2 separate regions of the Homo sapiens genome follow, and region 2 is linked to region 1. The links come from fine-mapping of genetic effects on gene expression. A gene starts in region 1. The other region holds a variant in brackets. All regions are shown on one strand. Distances are from middle to middle.

Region 1 (10,843 bases):
CACTGGGTCTCTCCCACAAGTGGGAATTATGGGAGCTACAATTCAGGATGAGATTTGGGTGGGGACACAGCCAAACCATATCACCATCTTTATTAGAGAGGAAAGAGAGCTACCTACAGAAGAAAAGCTCTGGAAGGTAGGAGAAGGGTTAGGAATTCCTGGGATAACTTCCACTGGTGTGGGACTACATTGAACAAAGAGGACGAGAGAGAATTTCCCCTGCTCCCTCTCCTTTCCGTCTATTCAATGACTTGCAGAACTTTTCAAGGCATTGGCAGTGGGATTATTTCTTTTGAATGTGGCATTGTAATGGAACTGGGTCTCGGGGTAAGGATGAGGAAGCCCTTACTGATGTGAGTTGTACACACCCTAAGCGGAATTCCTCAGAATCAGAATGAGAGCCATCTGCTGGGTCTAGCTGCCTGAGGGGCATTGGGTAGTAAGAGAGTCATGGTACCAGGAACAAATCCCTGGGTCTATCTGAGGCATCAGCTCCAAGTTTCAAGACAGACTCTGAAAGCTTTAGCACCTTCTAGGAATAAGAACTGCAGAATAATAAATCCTGCTGGGCAAGCAGTGATCATAAAAGAAAATTCTTGTGGGCTGGTAGGAGGAACTAGTGCACTTAACATCGGGTACAGGAAGGCCTCCCCCAGAGGGACTTACATGTTATCAGGGCTCAACATGAAGAGCTCTATCCACAGCTCTCCAGGTCTGGACCTAACATGAGGGTGGGAACTGGAGTCTGGGGCTCTCTTGTCTCTGGAACCACTCTGGTTATTTCCTGGTGTGGCTGGGGTTACACTGTCTGGCTGTCTCAATAGGTAATAAGACCATAAGTGCTTTCACTTGGCGTCCCATTTTGTCTACATGACAACCTTGGCCAGGTGGAGGATGTAGTAGTTTTCTGGGGCTCCCATAACAAAGCATCCCAGATGGTAATGGTAAACCACAGAAATGTGTGGTCTTACCATTCTAGAGGCTCAAAGTCTGAGATCAAAGTGTGGGCAGGTATGATTTCTTCTTGGAGTGTATGTAGATGGCCACCTTCTTGCTGTGTCCTCATATGGTCATCCCTTTATGCCAGTTTGTGTCCAAATTTCTTATAAGGACCTCAGTCATACTGGATTAAGGCCCACATATATGACATCATTTTACCTTAATTACTTTTTTAAAGGATTTAGCTCCAAATACAGTCACATTGTGGAGCACTGGGGGCTAGGACTTCAACACATAAATTTGAGGGGGATGAGATTCAGCCCATAACAGAGAGCAAGTGCTGTCACCCTCACTTTATAGCTGGGTAAGGGAGAATAAGGGGTCAGGGTCTTTCCTAAGTCCACACATTCCCTGGGACTGAGATTGGAGCCCTAGGCCCTGGACTCCCAATTCACTTCTGTTTCCAGAGCAGCATCAGCCATAGAGGTGAACTTTCATTTATTGGGTATCTTCAGAACATCTAGACTTACAACTTATCAGTGGTCTTCCTTTGAAAGCACTGTCTTCCTTCCCTTGCCCCATCTTAAAGTGGGTTCCCCTAAATGTAGATTACGATTTGAGTGTAAGTTGGGAAGCAAGCCCGGGAGGCACCTGTAAGGGAGTGGGAAAGTGATATAGGGAAGAAAAGCCCATAAAAGATGCGTGAGTGAGCAGGTAGGTTACTGCTGTGGGCAGCTGGGGCTCAATCCTGCTGAGGCTCTCTGGGAGACAATGGAGAACACTGAGGTATTCTCCCAACTCTCAGGGATGAGGGAGCCAGGCTGTTTATCCACAAACTCCTAATGGTCATTGGTTGAGGGCTGATCCCAGGGGTGTTGATTTCTCCAGCATTTCCAGCATGCCCTAGAAAAGGCCATTGATAAGCATGCCTGGGCCTATAGAGTGCTAAGCCCCCGTATTAGTTATCTATTGCTGTGTAACAAATTAATGCAAACTAAGCAACTTAAAACAACACATTTATTATCTCATGGTTTCTGTGGCCAGGAGTTGAGTCTCGGTATGACTTAACTGAGTCCTCTGCTTCAGTGTCTCTCACAAGGCAGAAATCAAGGTGTCAGCCAGGGCTGGGTTCTCAGTGGAAGGCTTAACTGGGGGAGGATCAGCCTCTAAACTTATGTGATGGTTAGTGGGATTCATTTCCTCTAGGACTTTTTTGGACTGAAGTTCTCAGTTTCCAGCTGGCTATTAGCTGGATGTCACCCTCAGTTCCTTGCCATGTAGATCTTCCAAACATGGCTACTAATGAAAGCATGCAGGTCAAGACGCCAACTGAGACAGTCTGCTAGCAAGACAAAGAATCTTATGTAATGTAATCACGGAAGTGAACATCCCATTATCTTTGCCTTATCCTGTCGGTTAGAAGTGAGCCACAGTCGTGCCAGCACCTAAGGAGAGGGTAATACACAGGGCAATGGATACCAGGAGATGGGGCTCACTGTTGCACTGCCAGCTTCTCTCTCTACTAGTTATTCTTGGCCAGAAACATTTTTGTCAGAAGACTTGGAAGATGAGAAATTTTACTGCAAATCAGTCAGAGAGTCTAATTTTAAACTATCTGGCCATGGAGGGTTAGCCAGCTGTGATTTTTCCCCGGTCTGACATGGGGGTCTCTTGTGTTTTTCTGGCCCCAGTTAAGGGCCAGGCATCTTGGGCTTGTTGCAGTGGGAGCTCTGAAGTCTCCTGGTCTCCCATTGACAGTTGGAGCCAACTACAGTTGTGGTTCCTTTTCCTGGATTTTGAAGTGAATTTGAAATTGAGAATTTCTGGAACTTCAATTAAAATTTCATATAGGCTATGAATATGGGAATTAATGAAGTCTTATTTCCTCTCTGACATTTGGACAATTCCTAAAGTCCCAGGATGGCACCACCTTCTCAGTATGCAGTATCAGATAGACCCTGGGAGAGGCCGGACATATATATATAAAAATATATGTAATATATATAATATATATTGTGTATATGTAATATATATAATATATACATATATAAACATAAATATATATATGTATCTCCTGTGATGACTAGGGGAGCAGAATCATTTTTTTTTTTGCCGGGGGGAAGGAGAATGTATTAGTCTTATCAGCCTTTCAGTGTCTTGTACCAGCTCTGCTTTAAAAAGTTTATTTTTGGCCAGGCGTGGTGGCTCACGCCTGTAATCCCAGCACTTTGGGAGGCTGAGACGGGCAGATCACCTGAGGTCAGGAGTTCCAGACCAGCCTGGCCAACATGGTGAAAACCCATATCTACTAAAAATACAAAAATTAGCTGGGTGTGGTGGTGCGTGCCTGTAATCCCGGCTACTCGGGAGGCTGAGGCAGGAGAATCGCTTAAACCTGGGGAGAGGAAGTTGCAGTGAGCTGAGATCATGCCACTGCACTCCAGCCTGGGGGGCAGCATGAGACTCTGTCTCAAAAGAAAAAAAAAAAGTTTATTGTCCCCTCTGGGAGGCCATGCAGTGTAGTGGTTAGGGCCCACAAACTCTGGAGCCACAGCACTTGAGTTTGATTCATTGCTCAGCCACCCACTAGCTGTGTGACCTAGGGCAAGCGACTTAACATCCCTGTGCCTCAGTCTCTTCATCTATAAAATGGGGATGATAATAGTACCACCCTCACAGAGTTTTTGCAAGGATTATGTGAAAATGCATGTAAAGCTCTCAGAACAGTGCCAGGAACCAACAAGGGTTTGCTAGGATTCATGTGAGAAAACAAAATAACACACTAGGAAGAGAAATTTTGGGGGATGGAAATGACTGGGGTGACTTATGAAACCTGCTATTTCTAACAAAAATTCTCCATTCTTTTTGGGGGTTCTATTAAGATATAGAGCCCACCTTACCTGTGACTTCTGAGCTCTGGAGAAGGGGTTCCCTGTTTCTCAGATCTCATCACCCATTAGCACCAAAAGAGCTATGGCTGCCAGGAATGACTCAATAAACATAACACGTCCTGGCTTCTTTGACCAGACAGACCTAGGTCCTGGGGTGGGGAGGGGAAGGGGTTTCATCTTGTGTGGCTGAGCCTGTTGTAATTCTTCTAGCAGGTTTTGACAGGAGAATGGGGAGAAGTCTTGTGGACTCGGTGATTCTGAATGAGAATGAGTGAGAAGCTCTGAGTGTGGAAGGAGGGTGCAGGGACCAGGTATGCATGTATGTTTCTTGGAAGGGGGGCTGAAGCAGAAAGACAAGTTTATCCTGGCATCTAGGGTTGTCGTTAGCATTTTCTTTTCTAAATCAGTAGTAGCTCTCAGAGTGGTGTTTCTAAAGTGTTAGTGTGCAAAGGAATCACTAGGGCTGCTTGTTAAAATTACCAATCCTGAGCCTACCTCCAGAGATTCTGGTTCCACAGCAGCACTGTGGTGGGGGCCAGTGACTTTTGTGGGGGTGTCTGAGGGCTGTGGTGCCCCAGAACCTGGAAGGGCAGAGGGGCCATGATCAGGTTTCAGATCAGTGGCCAGAGGCTTTTCTGGAAGCTGTACATTTTCACAAGCACATTTTCAAAAGCCCTTGGAGAGGATGTTGATTGAGGGGAGTTTTGGGGACTGGTGGAGATTATGGGGGTGAAAAGTCCAGAGCTATCTCTTAACACCCCTACTCTCTGAGGGCCAGGCCTTGAAAGTATTGGAAATGGGAGGTGCCTTAGGTACACTGTCATTTTACAGAGGAAGACAACGAGGCCCAGAGAGGTTAAGTGGGTTGATTAAGGTCTCACAGCTAGTTAAGAGCAGCTCTGAGACGGCAACCGAAGTATTCTGGTTCCCTATCCAGTTCCCCACTCACTACACACCTGTTCCTTCTGGGGCGGGAGACCTGAGGAAGGAAAGGAGTGAGAGGAGAATGTAGTGAGAGTTGGAGAGCGTTGGGTCCACAGCCCCCAAGGGCAGGGCCACAACAAAAATGTTGTCCTGGTTGAAAAGGAGTGAGAATCAGGACAGGGAGAATTTTGGTTTGGAATTCAGTCAAACAATTGCTATTAAAATCACTAATAGAATTATCTTCCGAAGGCTAGCTGTCCTTTCCAGACGAAAAGAAATATTCCAAGTCTAAGACTTTTGCTTTCTTCCTTCCAGGGAGAATACATTCCCCCAAGGGAGCTCTGTTTCAGATTTTCTCCCTAGTAACAGACTCCCCTGCTTAGCTCTGGCCATCCCGGGTAGTGAGTGGTGCGGGGCGGGGGTGGAAGGGGGCTGGAAGCCTGGCTAGGGGGGTCTGCGGCGGCGCGGGCGGGGGCGCTGCGGGGAGGAGGGGGGCGCTGCGGGGCGGTAGTGGGGGTGCTGCGGGGCGAGGCCGCTGCGGGGCGGTGGGGGGCGCTGCGGGCGGGGGCACTGCAGCACCGCGGCCCTCGGGCGGCCGGCGCGGCCTGCTGGAGGGGGCGCTGTGGGCACCGCGCAGCGGCCTTTTGTCAGCGCGCAGGGCCAGGAGAGCTCTCATTTCCTCCCAGCCTCGTGCGGGAAATGGCTTTAATTCTGACGGCAGGGCTGTGAGGGACTAGCGGGAACCCGAGCCTTTTGTCAAGGAACTGCGGCGTCGGTGGCCAGTCATCCCCGCCGCCGCGGAGCCGCTGCACTGCTGGGGGATCTCCCAGCAGCTCTGACGAGCGCGGGCTGCAGCATGGGCAGAAAACGCTGCCCTGCAGATTAGCTGGGTGGATTTTTTAAGCGCACCCCACCCCCCAAACCCATAAAATAACAAAACCAACCCGCAGTGGCCGACCGGAGATAGCTAAGATGCCGCGCAGGAGGTAAGGGTCTGGGGAGCGGGCCTGGTGGGCTGCCTGGGGTCGCTGGTCTCCTGGCGCGGAGACCCTGGCATCCCTCGGCCGGGCGGGAGCCGCTTGGCCCAGGTGGGGCGCGTCTGTTGCCGAGCGCGTCGGTGCTGCAGCCCTGGCCGGCAGCGGTGTGTTTTGCGCCTAAAGGTTTCTGGTGATGATGTAGCATCCGAGGCTCTTAGGAAATCGGGGCTGCAAGCACTGGCCCCTGCTTGGGGATGGTGGGACCCTCGCCCGGAGCGTAACGCCTGACAGGTGGGGCTTTCTTTTGGGTCCGAATGGAGGGGCGGCAAGCCTCGCCTCGCCTAGCCGGGCGGGGCCGCTCCTCCCCTCCCCTCCCTCCCCTCCCCTCTCTTTCCTTCCCGCTCGGCCGCCGCCCTCCGGGGTAGCGGTGCGAGGCGGGCTTGGCGGGGCTGGGCGCGTCCCCCGGGGCCTCGCGATCGCTGGCTGCGCGGCGCTCAGCCGCAGTGGCCGGCCGAGCAGGTGCGGCGTCGGCAGCCGCCTACATTGAGATCGGGGCAACCGGCACGTGAGCGGGCCTCGTGGGTTTTGATTTTATGCGGCTCCACCACTTTGGAGGGAAAAATCCCACTGTACCCGAGGGGGTCTTGCCAGTCTGTTTCTTCCATCTTCCCTCTCCTCTCCCTGCCTCCCCTCCCTTTCTGCAGCCGGGGCGGAGGCCATCCCCGGTCCCGGAGGCGGGAGTCGGTGTCTGCTTATTTTTAAATCACACCACAGCCTACCTGGTGTTGGGGGGAAGGGAGGGAGGGGCAGACTGCTTTAGGATGCAGATCAGGCTCTCGGGTCTGGCCTATTGTCTTGCCTTTTCTCTTCCTTCCTTTTCTCACCCCTAATCTCCATCTCTTGCCCAAAACTAAAAATAGAAAATAGGAAATAGAAATAGAAAATAAAAAAGCAAGCTCCAGCCCACACCCTATCAAATTCTTTAAAAAACTGTCATTTATCTCTGACACATGATTAATACCCATCTGTTTCCTTACACCCACTCTTCCCTCTTGCTGTTTGTCGTCTAAGATTCAACTGACTCAGATGAGCTTTATCGATAATAGAAATCAAATCTCAGTTTCCTAAATGCACATTTCGTGCTTCCCGAGTAACCCAAAAGGAGTGGTTGGTCTGGCATCCTGGCAGAAGCAAAGGGATTGGAGAGGGTGCAAGCAACTGCTTTCATGTCTAGTTTGTGGATCTAGCTGGGATTCCTGAGATGTTTAACTTGTGCAGTGAGGGGTGTTCTCATTAATGGCATTAGAAAATTATGTTCCGTTTTAAGAGAAAAATAGCAAGTCAGCATTTGAAGTAAAAGTGTTTTAAATGAATCTGACCAAAGAAGAGAACTATGACGTTTCAGACTTGCAAATAATATCTCCATTAGCATATGAATAATATATGTTAGAGACTTAAAAGGGGGGTTTAGACCATTTAATATTTTTACTTTATAAGGTTCTACTTTAATTGTGTAATGTGATCAAACTTTTCTCTGTAGAGACTTTTCTCCTATAGATCAGGATCTTGCCCAGCCTTTCTTCCCTACTCCTCCCTGCATAGGGCACAAGTAAAAGCAAAGTTTTCATTATTGGTATGATGTCAACACATTTTGAAAAACCACTAAAGATAAATTATTCTTTGATCCAAAATCCATAAGAATTTTGTAGTAAGCCCTATGTTCTTTCTTGTCCACCAAATTGCCTAGCCTTATTAGAAATATGCTTGTCATATACACAATGTACAACAATGCCTGACATGATATGCTGTGGTTTCTAGGCTTGGATTGAATTTGTTTTAAATATTAGTATAGTGTTGGAATTAGCAAATCTCAGCTATTCTTAAGGTTAACAGTTGAGCAAATGTGTTTGCTGGCAGTGGGTTTAGTGTTAAGATTTTAAATATATATAAAAAAGACTAGTAGATATATTTATTTATTACCACCTCTTCCACAAGGGATTTAAGATAGTTTACAGGGATTCATAAATATGGCAAGGCAGCCTAACTTGGAAGTAGTTGGGAAAGAAAAAAGGACACTAAGGGTGGAGTCATAAAATGGTCTTAAGCGTGAGGCTGATACAAAAACATGAGCATGAGACCTTCTACAATGGCTACGGGCAGGAAACAAAAACAGCTCTAAACTTTCTTGCAGCATAAGCAAAAAAGAAATTGACGAACCCATGGCTTATATGTTTTATTTATTTGTTAAACTCATTCACACACTTCTTCACTCAACAAACATTCAGTGAGGACTTACTACGTGCCAGGTTCTGTAAGACGTACTGGGAACAAAGGGATAAAGCAGATAGACGTGGTCTGTGTCTAATGGGCGCTTAAAGACAAATGCAAGAAATGGACACTCATCAAGAAATCTCTCAAATGAATATATAATTACAAATTGTGATAACAGCTATGTGGGAAAAACACAAAACACAAAACATTATATGGCCAGAACATAAAAACACAACAATTCTTTTTTATTTTTTATGTTTTATATTTTTTTGAGACACAATCTCATTCTGTTGCCCAGGCTGGAGCGCAGTGGCATGATCTCGGCTCACTGCAACCTCCACCTCCTGGCTTCAAGTGATTCTCACGCCTCAGCCTCCCGAATAGCTGGGACTACAGGTGCGTGTCACCACGCCCGGCTAATTTTTGCATTTTTAGTAGAGACGGGGTTTCGCCATGTTGGCCAGGCTGGTCTCAAATCCTTGGCCTCAAGCGATCCACCTGCCTCTGCCTACCAGAGTGCTGGGATTACAAGTGTGAGCCACTTTGCCCAACCAACAGTTCTTGATTCCGAGACCAGAAAGGAACTTTTTCCTAATGTGACATAGTGTTTGAAATGATGCCTTCGATCACCTCCTCATCAGACACAAGGACAAGTTTCATAGGGTTGTTTTTCACAATGGCCCTCAGCATGAGCTAATGATATCATGCCACAGGTCTCTCAGCCCCCTGGGGTTCTGAAGATATACGTATTTTGAAAGATCTGTGTATTCTCTGACATTAGTGGTTTTATTCCAGTGATAATCTTTTTTGCGGAATCTTGCTCTGTCACCCAGACTGTTTGAGTAGGGATCTTGCTCTGTTACCCAGGCTGGAATGCAGTGGCATGATCATAGTTCCCTGTAGCCGGGACCTCCTGGGCTCAAGCGATCCTCCCACCTCTCCCTCCTGAGTAGCTGTGACTACAGGCATGAGCCACTATGCCTGGCCTATTCCAGTGATAATCATAAATAATTAGCAGTAAAAATGTGTTCTGGATCATCTTGATGGCAAGGCTGAAACTGATGCTGGAGTCTGCGTTTGCCTTTGTATCTTTCCATTTGAGCCATGGGCAGGCCTGGTGGCTCCAGCCACAGCCTGGGTGAAGGGAAGGGGAGTTGGAATAGTGGAGAGAGTGAGTCTACACAGGACACACACAACTTGCCAACTCCAAAAGAACAGCTCCTGGCGACCACTGCTCTATTGGCAGGGATTGAAGATCTCACGCCAGTTCATCTTTGTATGGATCAAGTTTGCAGCAATTTATTAGCAGCAGATGTAGTAAAAACACAACAGAAAAGTTGCTGTTGTGGATTTTAACAATATTTGAATTAGATCTTCATTTAATGCATATTTAGTAACTCTCCAATAGGTACCTTACATCTAAGAAAATGAGATGGGGCCGGGCGCGGTGGCTCACGCCTGTAATTCCAGCACTTTGGGAGGCCGAGGCAGGTGGATCACCTGAGGTCAGGAGTTCGAGACCAGCATGACCAACATAGTGAAACCCCATCTCTACTAAAAATACAAAAATTAGCTGAGCATGGTGGTGGGCAACTGTAATCTCAGCTACTCGGGAGGCTGAGGCAGGAGAATCACTTGAATCCTGGAGGCAGAGGTTGCAGTGAGCCGAGATCACACCACTGCACTCCAGCCTGGGCAACAGAGCGAGACTCCAACTCAAAAAAAAAAAGAAAAGAAAATGAGATGGGTAATTTGTTCTGATGGTTAAGTGACACCAGACTGTCTGACTTCAAAAATTATTTTTCTACTTACTAGCTGTGAGAGTTTAGGCAAGTTATTCAACCTCTCTCCTGCTCAATTTCCTATAATAATATAGGAATAAATATATGGCATTGATTGCATGGTGATATTATAAGAATGAGTTGTTACATGTGAAAGACTTACCTATTGCAATAAATTAATTTTATTACTTTGATATTTTAAAGTGGATAGTTGTATTTGTACATTGTTTTGGCATTTTAATAATATAAAAGCTGTAAAGCATAGGTGTTTAGAACTGGTATTTATGAGTATACATATTTAAGTTACATTTTAATAAAAGTGACTTAGGTCAACCATGAGGTCATGAGAAATTTTTTCTGCCAAAAGGGATGTTTATATAGTTTAAGCATTTTGAACTATGTACAGGGACACACACAGATTCTTGGAATAGAAATTTGAATCTTTAGAAGAGATTGCAGCCACAATATTTGACTCCACATACATTGGCTGCTACAATTTTAGCCTGAAAGAATTTTAAAGCAATAATATGAAAAACTGCCTGTCTTCAATGACAACCACCACCAAATCTTCCAAACTCGAAGAGCACTCATGGAATGGCAGGCTTTTAGTAAAGATTTCATCCCGGTCTGTCTTCCAAGATAAACTACATAGGAAAGCTTTGCCAATGTTACTGAAAGAGATGAAGAGAAAGTGTATCCTCTGTGGAGTCTAAACTTCAGTTGTATAGATTTAAATGAGTTTATTGATTATGTTATTCAAATTTATTTTAAACTTTTCTTTGTACCTAAGTGATCTGTCAAAGAATACAAAAGATGTTAGTCTCAAATGATATTTTTGGCTGGGTGTGGTGGCTCACGCCTGTAATCCCAGCACTTTGGGAGGCCGAGGCAGGTGGATCACCTGAGGTCAGGAGTTCCAGACCAGCCTGGCCAACATGGTGAAACCTCGTCTCTACTAAAAATACAAAAATTAGCTGGGTGTGGTGGTGGGCGCCTCTAATCCCAGCTATTCCAGAGGCTGTGGCAGGAGAATTGCTTGAACCCGGGAGGCGGAGGTTGC
Region 2 (10,843 bases), 110 kb after region 1:
TGGTTGTGTCCAGCCTGGTTTATGGCACTCAAGAGTACTGCCAAGTGATGGCCACAGTATTACGTGGCGGGACGGGATGGGACACTGGATGAGGATGACAGGACATGGGCTGGGCAGTGGGAAGACTGGGAGCAGTGGCCAAAGTCTTTGATACCAAGAGGGAGCTGGTGCTCCGCAGTGGTCTGGAGGGGGCACTTTGACTTGCCCAGCAGTGTCAGGAGTTGCAAAGACTTTGTTACAGGGAGATCTGGCCCAGGTGGTTCACTAGTCCACTTTAACTGTCCACAAGTTACCCCACTCTGTCCCATCCTCCATGTAACCGTGCACTTCCCCAGACTTCACCCCTGTTAAGACCCCAGGCTTCTCCTAAAACTGAGTCCTTCACTCGCTCCCTCTGTAACACTGACTATACCTTCCACATCACCCACGATTCCATACACCTCAGCATGCCGGGTTCCTTCTTGTGATGTGGCAACACACACACTGCATTCATATGTGCCCATCACACACACACCACACAGGTGTGTCACACACTCACTCGCACACATTCACACCCTCGCATATGCTCATGTGCACTCACACACACTTACACAAACACATTTGTAAACGCTCACTCCCACACTCATATACCACTCACTGTCACACACACTGGTTCGCACATGCTCACACCACACACACAGACACACTCATGGCAAACAATCTCACTTGCATACTCAAACTTACACACTTACACCACACACAACCTGCCCACTCACACTTGCACACCCTCACACACCCACACACACACTTGCACACTCACACACACTTGTACACACTCACACGTGCTCACCCACACACACTCCTTTCAGTTCCCGTCGTGAGAAGAAGCTGAACCGGAAGTTGGTAAGCCGAGGTCTGCCCACCATGGTACTGTGTTCTTCAGCCTTCTTAACTGTGCAGTGGGGAGGAGAGGCATCAGATAATATTTACCTTGCTTTCTACTTTTCAGTCTGTGGTTTTACAATCTCCCTGACTCTCACCCCATCCAGGCATCTGAAAGGTTGTGTGGAAGCAAGGTTGAGTGAGAGTGGGGAGGGGGAGAAAGGGTGGCAGGAGGGTTTGGTTTCTGGGGCCTGAGTAACTCTGGCCTTGAACATTCCCGCGATCCCGACAGATTCCCAGGTGGAATAAAGACCTGGGGGCCCCAGTGGCTGCTAGAAAGGGCTGACCAGGGGTCTTCCCCTTTTGACTAACATGTCTTGGAAATATGGGGTCTGTGTTATATAAGGAATTCCACTCTCCCTCTGCCTACTGGGAAGATATTCTCCATATTTCTTGGAGTTCCTCACTGGTGTAGAAAATGAAATGGGTTTGAGGACATGTAATTTCCATGTTTTTATTGGTGAAACTAAACTGGTTACAGCAATGCTTAGATGTCTCCACCAAGCTGTACACCTCACGCCTTCTCCTTTCTCTGTGTCTGTTTCTTCTTTCTTGCCTAGAAAAACTCTGAGCTGGACCCCAGCCGGGCCTCCTGCCACTTCAGACATTAATATCCATCTAAATTCATAGACAAGAGCCCAGAGCTGCCAGCCTGCAAGGGGGTGTTCCCAGGACAGGCCACATGGAAGGTGCAGATCAGAACCCAGTCCTTCCATCTGTCTCTGGTAGCCATCCCTCAACATCAGGCTGGCCCTCCCCTCGCTCTGGATTGATTTTATAGAATTCCCTAGAAATGGTTCTGTTAGCCCCAGGTGGAAGCTGTCACCTGAATGAAATCTTACAGGTCATATCTTTTGATCTTTTTCTAGAAGGTACTAAGAAGACAGAAACAAGCAAAGCCGCCACCACAGAGCCCGAAACAACCCAGCCGGAAGGGGTGGTGGTCAACGGGAGGGAGGAGGAGCAGACGGCAGAGGAAATCCTCAGCAAAGGCCTGAGCCAGATGACCACCAGTGCTGACACGGATGTTGATACCTCTAAGGACAAAACCGAGTCGGTCACCAGCGGCCCCATGTCCCCAGAGGGCTCACCTTCCAAGTCTCCCTCAAAGAAGAAAAAGAAATTCCGAACCCCCTCCTTCCTGAAAAAGAGCAAAAAGAAGGAGAAAGTGGAGTCCTGATTCATGACACCCTTGGGCTCCCTCCTGCCTCCTCTCTCTCCTCCCCTTCCCTTCTCCCATCTCTGTCCCTGCAAGCACAGGGCTAAGGAGGGATAGAGTAGGACCCTGGACCACATTCGGAAGGGGAACTTAGAGATCACCCGACCAACCCTTCGTTTTACAGTTGCCCAAGAGAAATCAGGTGACTTGCCCAAGGTCACACAGCTAGTTAGCGGCAGAGCCTGCACTCGAATTCAGGTCTCCTGACTTCCAGTCCAGTGCTCCTTCTACTACACAACACTGCCTAGTTGTGGGCTGCCTTTGTTTGGATGCTGTCCACCAATCTGAGCCTAGGGCAAGAAGGCCAGAAATGGGCCGTGAGCTCTCACAGGCTCAGACTAAATCAGAGGTCAAGGCTTCCCCTGAGTAAGGTCCATTTCTTCCCAGGAATCCAATCTCCTGTGGATGGAGCTATCTCTACATTTAAAAATCTCTTCTCTTTTCCACTTTGGGTCCCTGCCCTGCTGCTCAAAGTGACTAGCCAAATTGACCCCTCCAACAGAAAGTAATCTTTGTTCCCAAGGGCTGATGGCTTAGCTTGTACTACCCCAAACATTAACCCTGAGCTTTCTTCATGGAACCTCTTGAATGATGGATGGAAGAGCTATAAGAGGTGGTAGGCATAGGGGCAAGCCATGTAAGCTGAGGATTGGGGATGGTTTCATCAACATAAGAGGCCAGGAACTTGACCCCTTTGAATTGTGCATCTCAGGCACTTCAAAACTAAAACCAAATTTAGCATAGGAAAAAGTTGTTTAATGCTCAGGGCAGAAATTTGGGGAAGTTGAAATCCTCTGTTGGCTTTGGGTTGTATAAGGAGGATCAAAACAACAGAGGAAATGCTGACTTTCTAGCTTTGCATGACACCTGGAGCAATGCACTGTACCTGCCTCACTCCTGTCCAGTGGTCAGGTTTCCCCTGACCTTCCCTCACCCCCAGAAACACTTGCTTACAGACCGAAACTGGCATCTTACTCTTGGCACCTTGACTTGCACCCTCTGAGGTTCCAACTCAGTCATTCTTTGTCCAGCAGAGGAGAATCAGAAATGAGCCCTTCAGGATTAATCCTCTTGCACCAGCTCTCAGAGAAATGCTGGGTATCCCTGTCCTTGTCCCTATCTGTCCATCCTGGGGCCTGGTAATGGCCACAGTTATTGTTTTAAATGCCAACACTGTCTTCTCATGTTCTTCCGTGGGGCATTGATTAATGAGCATTTGTTGGCTCCTAAAAATTAGACAATCCATTCTCTTGAAAGCACCGTGTCTTGAAAGAATATTTTTCCTTTTGATCTGACTATCGTGAAAATATTTTTGAAAGTTCTTAATCATAGTTTTCCACTTTTGAGCACTTGCTATCTATAGACACTGTGCAGGCTTCACATACATTACATTCTTTAACCCTCACAGTAATCCTTTGAGGGGGGTAAGATCATTCCCATTTTGTGGGTGAGGAAATTGACCCCCTAAAATGATAATTGACTTGTCCCAGCTGACTTGGCTAGAAAGATCTGGATCCTGGATTTGAATCCAGGTCAGTCTGAGTCCAGAGCCCTTGCTCTTAACAGCTATGGTGAACAGACAACTTTAATCCCCAGGGGTGGTGGTTTTCATCCAGGATTTGTCTCTATGACTGTTCTCCATTGCATAATGTTAGCACGTGAAGCAAAGGTAGGGAACACCCTGTGCTCATCCTCATCACTGCACGTGAAGTTCCTGGTCAATGTGGACTGTGGTGATGCTACTGTGTGCCTCTGACAAAGGAGAGGCAAGAGCCTTCTGGTTGGGGCGGGAAATACCATCCATAGTTGGCTATTTCTTGAGAAGGAAGGAAACTGACCTAGGACCAAGGTAAACCTGACACTGTGTCTCTCTAGTGCAGATTCCTAACTGCTACCCCAGGCTCCATCTCTGTTCTACTTCCTGATTGGGTCAAATTTTAGGAGGGACAACCCACTCATGCCTCAGAAAAATCTGTCATATGGGAAATGCCTTTAAAAGCCAATCCCTTGATGCCTTCTTTTAAAAAGTAGATTTCACACTTATTCATTTATCCTTACATGGTATTTGTTAAGGATCCACTGAGCACCAGGCATTATGCTGACGTTGAAAGAGAGCCATCATTATGACTAGAATAATAAGTGGCAAACGATGTTGTGAGAATGGTGAACACGACCTCTGATGCAGCCTTTTGTGTGCGAGTTGTTCTACTTCGGGGGTGATGTTGATTGCCTCTGCATTCAACACACTCTATTCCCTTGACAATGAGGCCTCACTTAGGCCTCATTGGGTGGAGTCTTGCTGCAGCATTATTCTGGGAATTTATGCCATGGGCCCACTTTCTATTGATAGATGAACCTGTCAGTTGGTTCATTCCTCATGCATTCCAAAAACATGCATTGAGCTTGGGTCAAGGGCCAGGCATGAGGATAGGCATAGTTCCTGCCCTCAAGAAGTTCATGAGCATAGGAGGTGTATAGACAAATTGCAAAACAGGCAAGGGTACCAAGGTGGCATAAGAAAGCATCAATTAACTATCTTGGGGACCAGAGAAACCCTGAGAGAAGCAATGGCTGCTAAGGTTTTAAAACAAAGAGTAAATTTCCAGTAGAATGAAAGGATTGGCAGGGCATGCCACAATGAGGGAAGAATGTGCAAAGGTGTGGACGCATGAAATGCCATGATGGGTTCCGCTGAGCAACGTGGCATTGCCAGAGCATGATGTGGAAGCTCAGGGGTTGAGGGGTCCCTTCATAGGTAGGCAGGGCTGAATCCTAAGGAAACTGGTAGGAAGTGTGGAGGAGCTAGACTTGTCATGGAAGGGGTTTGGAGCCACTGGAGCCTTTAAATCAGGATAGAGTCATGATCAGAATTGCATTTTAGGAAAATCCCTTTGGTGGCTGAATGGAGACTGTGGACTGGATGGGCGTGGGATGGTGGCATGGGAGCTATGAGGCCTTTTTGAAATGTCAATACTAAAACATAGTTGATGGCCTGCTTTACACGATGTTTCCTCTACAGCAGATAGTGAGTTTCCAACACAAAATTTATTTCCATAAAAGTCTTTGGATAAAGCACCTTAAGAGGGATTTTCAACAAGGAGAGGGGAGCATTCAAAGAGCTAATGTTTCCAGTTTTATTTTGTCTTGGTGTAGAATTGCTGGGAGAGGTGTCCAGCCATCCTGCCATTTCTTCTTCCCTTGCACAGAATGTGGCACATTTAGCTCCAGGCTTGAGGACATGCACCAAATGCTACAGAAACAGACATGTGGTCCAAACAAATCTACAGGCTATTAGAAAGGAAAGGCCATTTTCTTTGGCTGTGGATAAAAGTTGGCTGAAAACTTTGACCA[A/G]TATCTGACTGGAGAAAATGTGTATTCAAGAGCTCAGATTTGGTGGGCAGTAGGTTCATGTCTGGTTGAGCTACTGTGCTTGGATGTGCCAGAGAAAAGGGTAACATTTGAACCAATGTGCTGCTCTGTGGCTGGCTGAGCTGGGAAGTGGAGAGGTTTCTGAGCTTATTTCCATCGCAAGGCAGGCAGGAGGAGAGAGGACAAGAAGGATTAGTGGTTTCGCAGAGACAGGCTTGGCTCCAACGGCTCCTTGCGTAGTGTTGGCTGCACCCAACAGTGGTGTGAGAGAACCGTCCATACCATGTGACCTTCCTCCCAAACTGCAGAAAGAGACACCTTCTAGCCCAGATCTGGACTCCCTAAGAGCCTCCTGGCCTGCATGCAACCCAAGTAACTGTCCTACTTTGGCCAGTTGACCCCCTCCACTCTCCTATAACTAAAACAGGGTTCTTCCTCTGTGAACAGATAAGTTCTTTTTAAAGGACTTGGGGGAAATTGGATGAAGAGCAGTAAGTTCTTACAGTAAGAACCCCACTGTAAAGCACTGCCCTCTGCCACTGATCCATGTAGACTGAATTTGAATCCCATTCCCTGTGGATGATACCGTCACTTGCTCATGGTGACATGGCAAGACAGTCATTCAGATGTTTGGCATTGTTGTAGCAGGGCTACTGCTAGTGTGGGGGAAAATGCTATAAATCCACTTCTTTGATTGCCATGGATTTGAAAGAACCATTTGCCCAACAGCATGATTCGCCTCTGAAAGTCTAAAAATAATTTTCAATTTTTCCATGAAGGTATGTGGAGGGTAAACACACAGCCTACGCATAGGTCTGCATGACATGTTTTTTCTTTTTCTTTCTTTTTTTTTTTTTTTTTTTTTTTTTTTAGACGGAGCTTTGCTCTTTGTTGCCCAGGCTGGAGTGCAGTGGTGCAATCTTAGCTCACTGCAACCTCTGCCTCCCGGTTTTTCAAGCGATTCTTCTGTCTCAGCCTCCCAAGTAGCTGGAATTACAGGAGCCCGCCACCTTGCCCAGCTAATTTTTGTATTTTTAGTAGAGACGGGGTTTCACCATGTTGGCCAGGCTGGTCTTGAACTCCTGACCTCGTGATCCACCTGCCTCGGCTTCCCAAAGTGCTGGGATTACAGGAATGAGCCACTGTGCCAGCTGACACGTTTTTTCTTTTGTGTGAATTTTATGTTCTAGTTTTGGGACAAGGGTAATCAGTTCTTGACTAGTGAACAAATGAGAGAACATTTACCCCTTACTCATTTTACACATGCAGGTCAGCAGAAGCCCTAGAGTTGGTTGGCACAGTCGCAGTTGACTGAGCATAGAGGAAACAGGTCTTTTTACATTCTCTCTCATCACTGGAGCTCAGTTGAACTCTAAGACCTTAGCACTCAAAGAGTCTGAAAAGAAATGAGGGAGAGGCTAAATTTAAGCTCTCCACTCCCACAGAAAGGACAGGGCACCCTACAATCTAAAAGCCAGTGAGGCAGCCTATCATCTGTTTCACATCTGTTCTGAAAGGGATAGTTTAATGCAAGAAGTAAGAGGCCTGTAGTGACTGTAAACTCATGAAATGTGCACATTGGTTATCTGTGCACATTTCCACTTGCACCATAACATAAGAAAGCGTACATGGAGTGTAATTACTTCCAGAAGCCCCGTCTAACCAACCTATTCAGATGTGGCACACTTTCTGTCATAAATGAGAGACCACACGTAGAGCTCGGTCACCAAGGAATGCCCAACATCCCTTTACCTCTCACAATGAGCAGCCACGCTCACCGGGAAGCAGTGTGGGGACTTCAGTGGGGTGTCCCTTAGTGGAGAACACCTTTCATCATTTTTATAGAGACAATTCCCTTGAGAATGTAGGCTTTTCATCTTAGGAACAATTAGGAAGAATCTCCAGCTGGGAGTGTTCTTATGTATACAGAAACAATGGGTCGCATTGGTTCATACTTAGGTGATATTAGGTTTGGCTATATTGATGTTTGGTGCCACTTACCTTCTAGATTTTCCCAAAAGTTGGGTCATTGCTATGGGAAATTGGGGCCTGCAGATGGGGGAGAAATGATCATTATTGGTGCAGGGAAGGGGTTCAGGCAGAGCTGGAGTCTGAGGCTCAGTGTGAGAAAGCACTGGCAGTTTTCTAGTAGAGTCAGGTCCTGGGCTCCTCTCCTCACCCACTGTGTCCCGAACTGAGGCCAGCTGTGATCGGCAAATTGCTTATCTCTAGGTAGTTTAAAGAAAACGTAAGAGTTTGGGGGGTGGTGGGAGAATAACTGTAGAAAGACCCTAAACTCTTCTCTCCCCCAGCAAATTATCTTGTATAATGTTTAAAAACCCAAAGGCCAGATCTCCCCTTTTAACGTGAATCAGAAGGAGGATGGCAATTGGACCAAGGGCAGAGTGGCCACACTTGAAACACATTATAAAATGGGAATATATTTCAGGGAACCCCACCCCCACACTTCCACTCCACCTCACACCTGTTGGTCCTGCTTTGTGGGTGATTGATTGATACCCAAGGACTGCCCCACCTTTAAATTCCTGCAATTTATGCTGCAACCAACATCTTAGTGTTTGCTCTCTCCGGGAAGAGGCCAGGTGGGGGAGAACATACGGTCCAGAGCCTGAGATCGCCTGGCTGGGGTGCAGGCAAGCAGGAACCCAGTCTAGATAGAATGCAGTGTTCTCTAAAGCTATGGATGGTTTCAGTGAAATGTCTGTGTCTGACAATCGTCACGCAAGAGTACTTACTGTCTTCCCTTGTACATACATTGTCTGTGTTTAGCTTTTCCTAGTATTGTGAGGTTTCAAATAGGGGTTCCATGTAAATACTCTTTCTGCTACTGAAATGCCGGCCCCCTTGAGTATGCATCACCCCCACAGATGGTTTTGCCTTTCTCTATGCTAACACTTTTTGAGCCACTGACGTGCAGATCGGTGGTTAGTTTCTTGGGCTTTTATTTTGCAATTTTATATATATACACATATTATATATATATATATATTTATGGGTTGGTTTTGTATAGTTTTCTGTTTGAATCTCTGAGCACCAAAGCTGCCCTTTGATTTTCACGAGAACTTTCCAAAGCCACTTCCTGAGCCCTCCTGCTGCTTTGGTGTCTGACGGTGATGCTGCGGTGGCATCTCTGCCCGTGAATTTCTGTATGTGTGTGCTGTTACCTCACCTGCAGACATGACCCTAGTAAATCTAACGTGCTTGGCTTCCCAGTGTGTGTGCCCCATCTCTGTCGGCTCCTCAGCTCTCCTGGCTCCCAGGGGAGAAGTCAGAAAGGGGGCCCTGTGGAAACATGGACCACGCAAGAAAATTGTACCCTTGAGGCCATTTCTCACACACGGAAAGCTGAACATGTGTCTACTTGTGTTCTGATTTGGGAAGGGCGGTTATAAAATACTAGACTCTCCTGAAAAGGAAATGGCCATGTGGATTTGAAACAGCTCTGTGGAGGAAGCTCAGTTTAGGTGGGTTGGGATAGGGGAGGAGCATTGCACAAACACACATGTGGACGGCCCTGCAGGGCAGCAGCAGCGGCAGATCTATAGGCTGGAATGGAAGAGGGTGTCAGGCCAGAGTGAGAATCTTGGAGAGGGCTAAGAAGTCACCCCAAGGGGTGAAAGGAGAATGGAGAGACTAGGTGGGGAAAAAGGAAGAGAGAAAAGAGGAAAGAGAGCCTTTGGCTCCTCTTTATTCAAAAACTACTGTGGAAGCTCAGTATTCCTTGAGTATCCACACATATGTGGCAGGTGTTGTTTAAGTATCTCATGCATCGCACCCACTGAGCCCCCATAAAACCCAGAGGGTGATTCTGTTATTACTACTTACTTTACAGATGAAGTAAGGAGACTTTTCTTGGGCCACAGGTTAATATGTGGTAAAGCCCAAGTTCAGCTAAGGTCTTGTAGGTAACCAAGCCCTGGCTCTTTCCACTGCTGCTCACTGCCGGGTGCCCTGAGCACAAGAGCAGTCCCCGTCATTACTCTCAGGCCCACTGTTATGGGCACGTCTGCTTTCCACAGACTGCCTGTATCCAAGGGTAGAGCCCCTCTTCCTCCTCTTGCATCCAGGTATCCTGAAGTTTCCACAGCTCCTGTAAACTTGGAAACAAGGAACCCAGCCCCTCGGGTGCCCCAAAGCCATCAGTTTCTCCCTTGCTGCAGTCACCCAGGAATCCACCTGTAAGGAATATGACTTCTGTGTGCTCTCACAGCTGTGTACATCGATCAGGTCAAGGACAATAGTCAATCTGCTGACACCACTTTATAAAGCTTGCTACAGTTTAAGATTATCATGCTGAGACCAGCCTGACCAACATGGAGAAACCCCGTCTCTACTTATAACACAAAATTTGCCGGGCGTGGTGGCGGGTGCCTGTAATCCCAGCTACTTGGGAGGCTGAGGCAGGAGAATTGCTTGAACCCAAGAGGCGGAGGTTGCGGTGAGCCAAGATCGTGCCATTGCACTCCAGCCTGGGCAACAAGAGCGAAACTCTGTCTCAAAAAAAAAAAAAAAAAGATTGTCACGCAAACCCACAAGTTGAACTCTTCCTAAGTTTGCACTATGACTAAAGGGAAACTAATGTAGGAGCAGAGTGCCCTCTATCTGCCAGAGATATTAAGAAATTTCTCCAGCGCATATACAGCAGTACCCCCTTATCTGCTGGGGATACTTTCCAAGACCCCCCCATGGGTGCCTGAAACCTTAAATAGCACTGACCCCTAGACACACTATGATTTTTCCTATACATATATACCTCTGAGAAAGTTTATAAATTAGGAGCAGTAAGAGATTCACAATAATAAATTAGAACTATTATAACAATGTGCTGTAATAAAAGTACAATAAGCATTACTTGAACACACGCATGGTGATACTGTTACAGCCAATCTGATAATCAAGACGGCTACTGAGTGACTAGTGGGCAGGTAGTGTAGACAGCGTGAATACACTGACAAAGGGTTATTTGTGCTCCCAGGTAGATAGCACTGAACAAATGGGATGATGAGATATTGCAGCACACTACTCAGAACAAACACGCAATTTAAGGCACGGTGGCTCACCCCTGTAATCCCAGCACTTTGGGAGGCCGAGGCGAGTGGATCACCTGAGGTCAGGAGTTCGAGACCAGCCTGACCGAAATGGTGAAACCCCATCGCTACTAAAAGTACAAAAATTAGACAGGTGTGGTGGCGGGCGCCTGTAGTCTCAGGAGGTTACTTGGGAGGCTGAGGCAGAAGAATTGCTTGAACCTGGAAGGCAGAGGTTGCAGTGAGCTGAGATTGCACCACTGCACTCCAGCCTGGGTGACAGAAT

The links.
Region 2: its variant is fine-mapped to the expression of ADD2 in cerebral cortex (GTEx, PIP 0.98).

What each region holds. Positions count from the first base shown.
Region 1 is chr2:70,762,783-70,773,625 of GRCh38, reverse strand. It overlaps ADD2 (adducin 2), which reads left to right and starts at 5,426. Exons shown (of 16, transcript NM_001617.4): 1 at 5,426-5,740. RefSeq lists enhancers at 2,054-2,103, 4,186-4,750, 5,160-5,725, 5,726-6,291.
Region 2 is chr2:70,654,683-70,665,525 of GRCh38, reverse strand. It overlaps ADD2 (adducin 2), which reads left to right. Exons shown (of 16, transcript NM_001617.4): 16 at 1,791-8,742. The coding sequence ends at 2,101. Among named protein-coding and RNA genes, the nearest start is that of TGFA, 110 kb to the right of the region's middle. The variant A/G (reference allele first, on the strand shown) is at 5,492.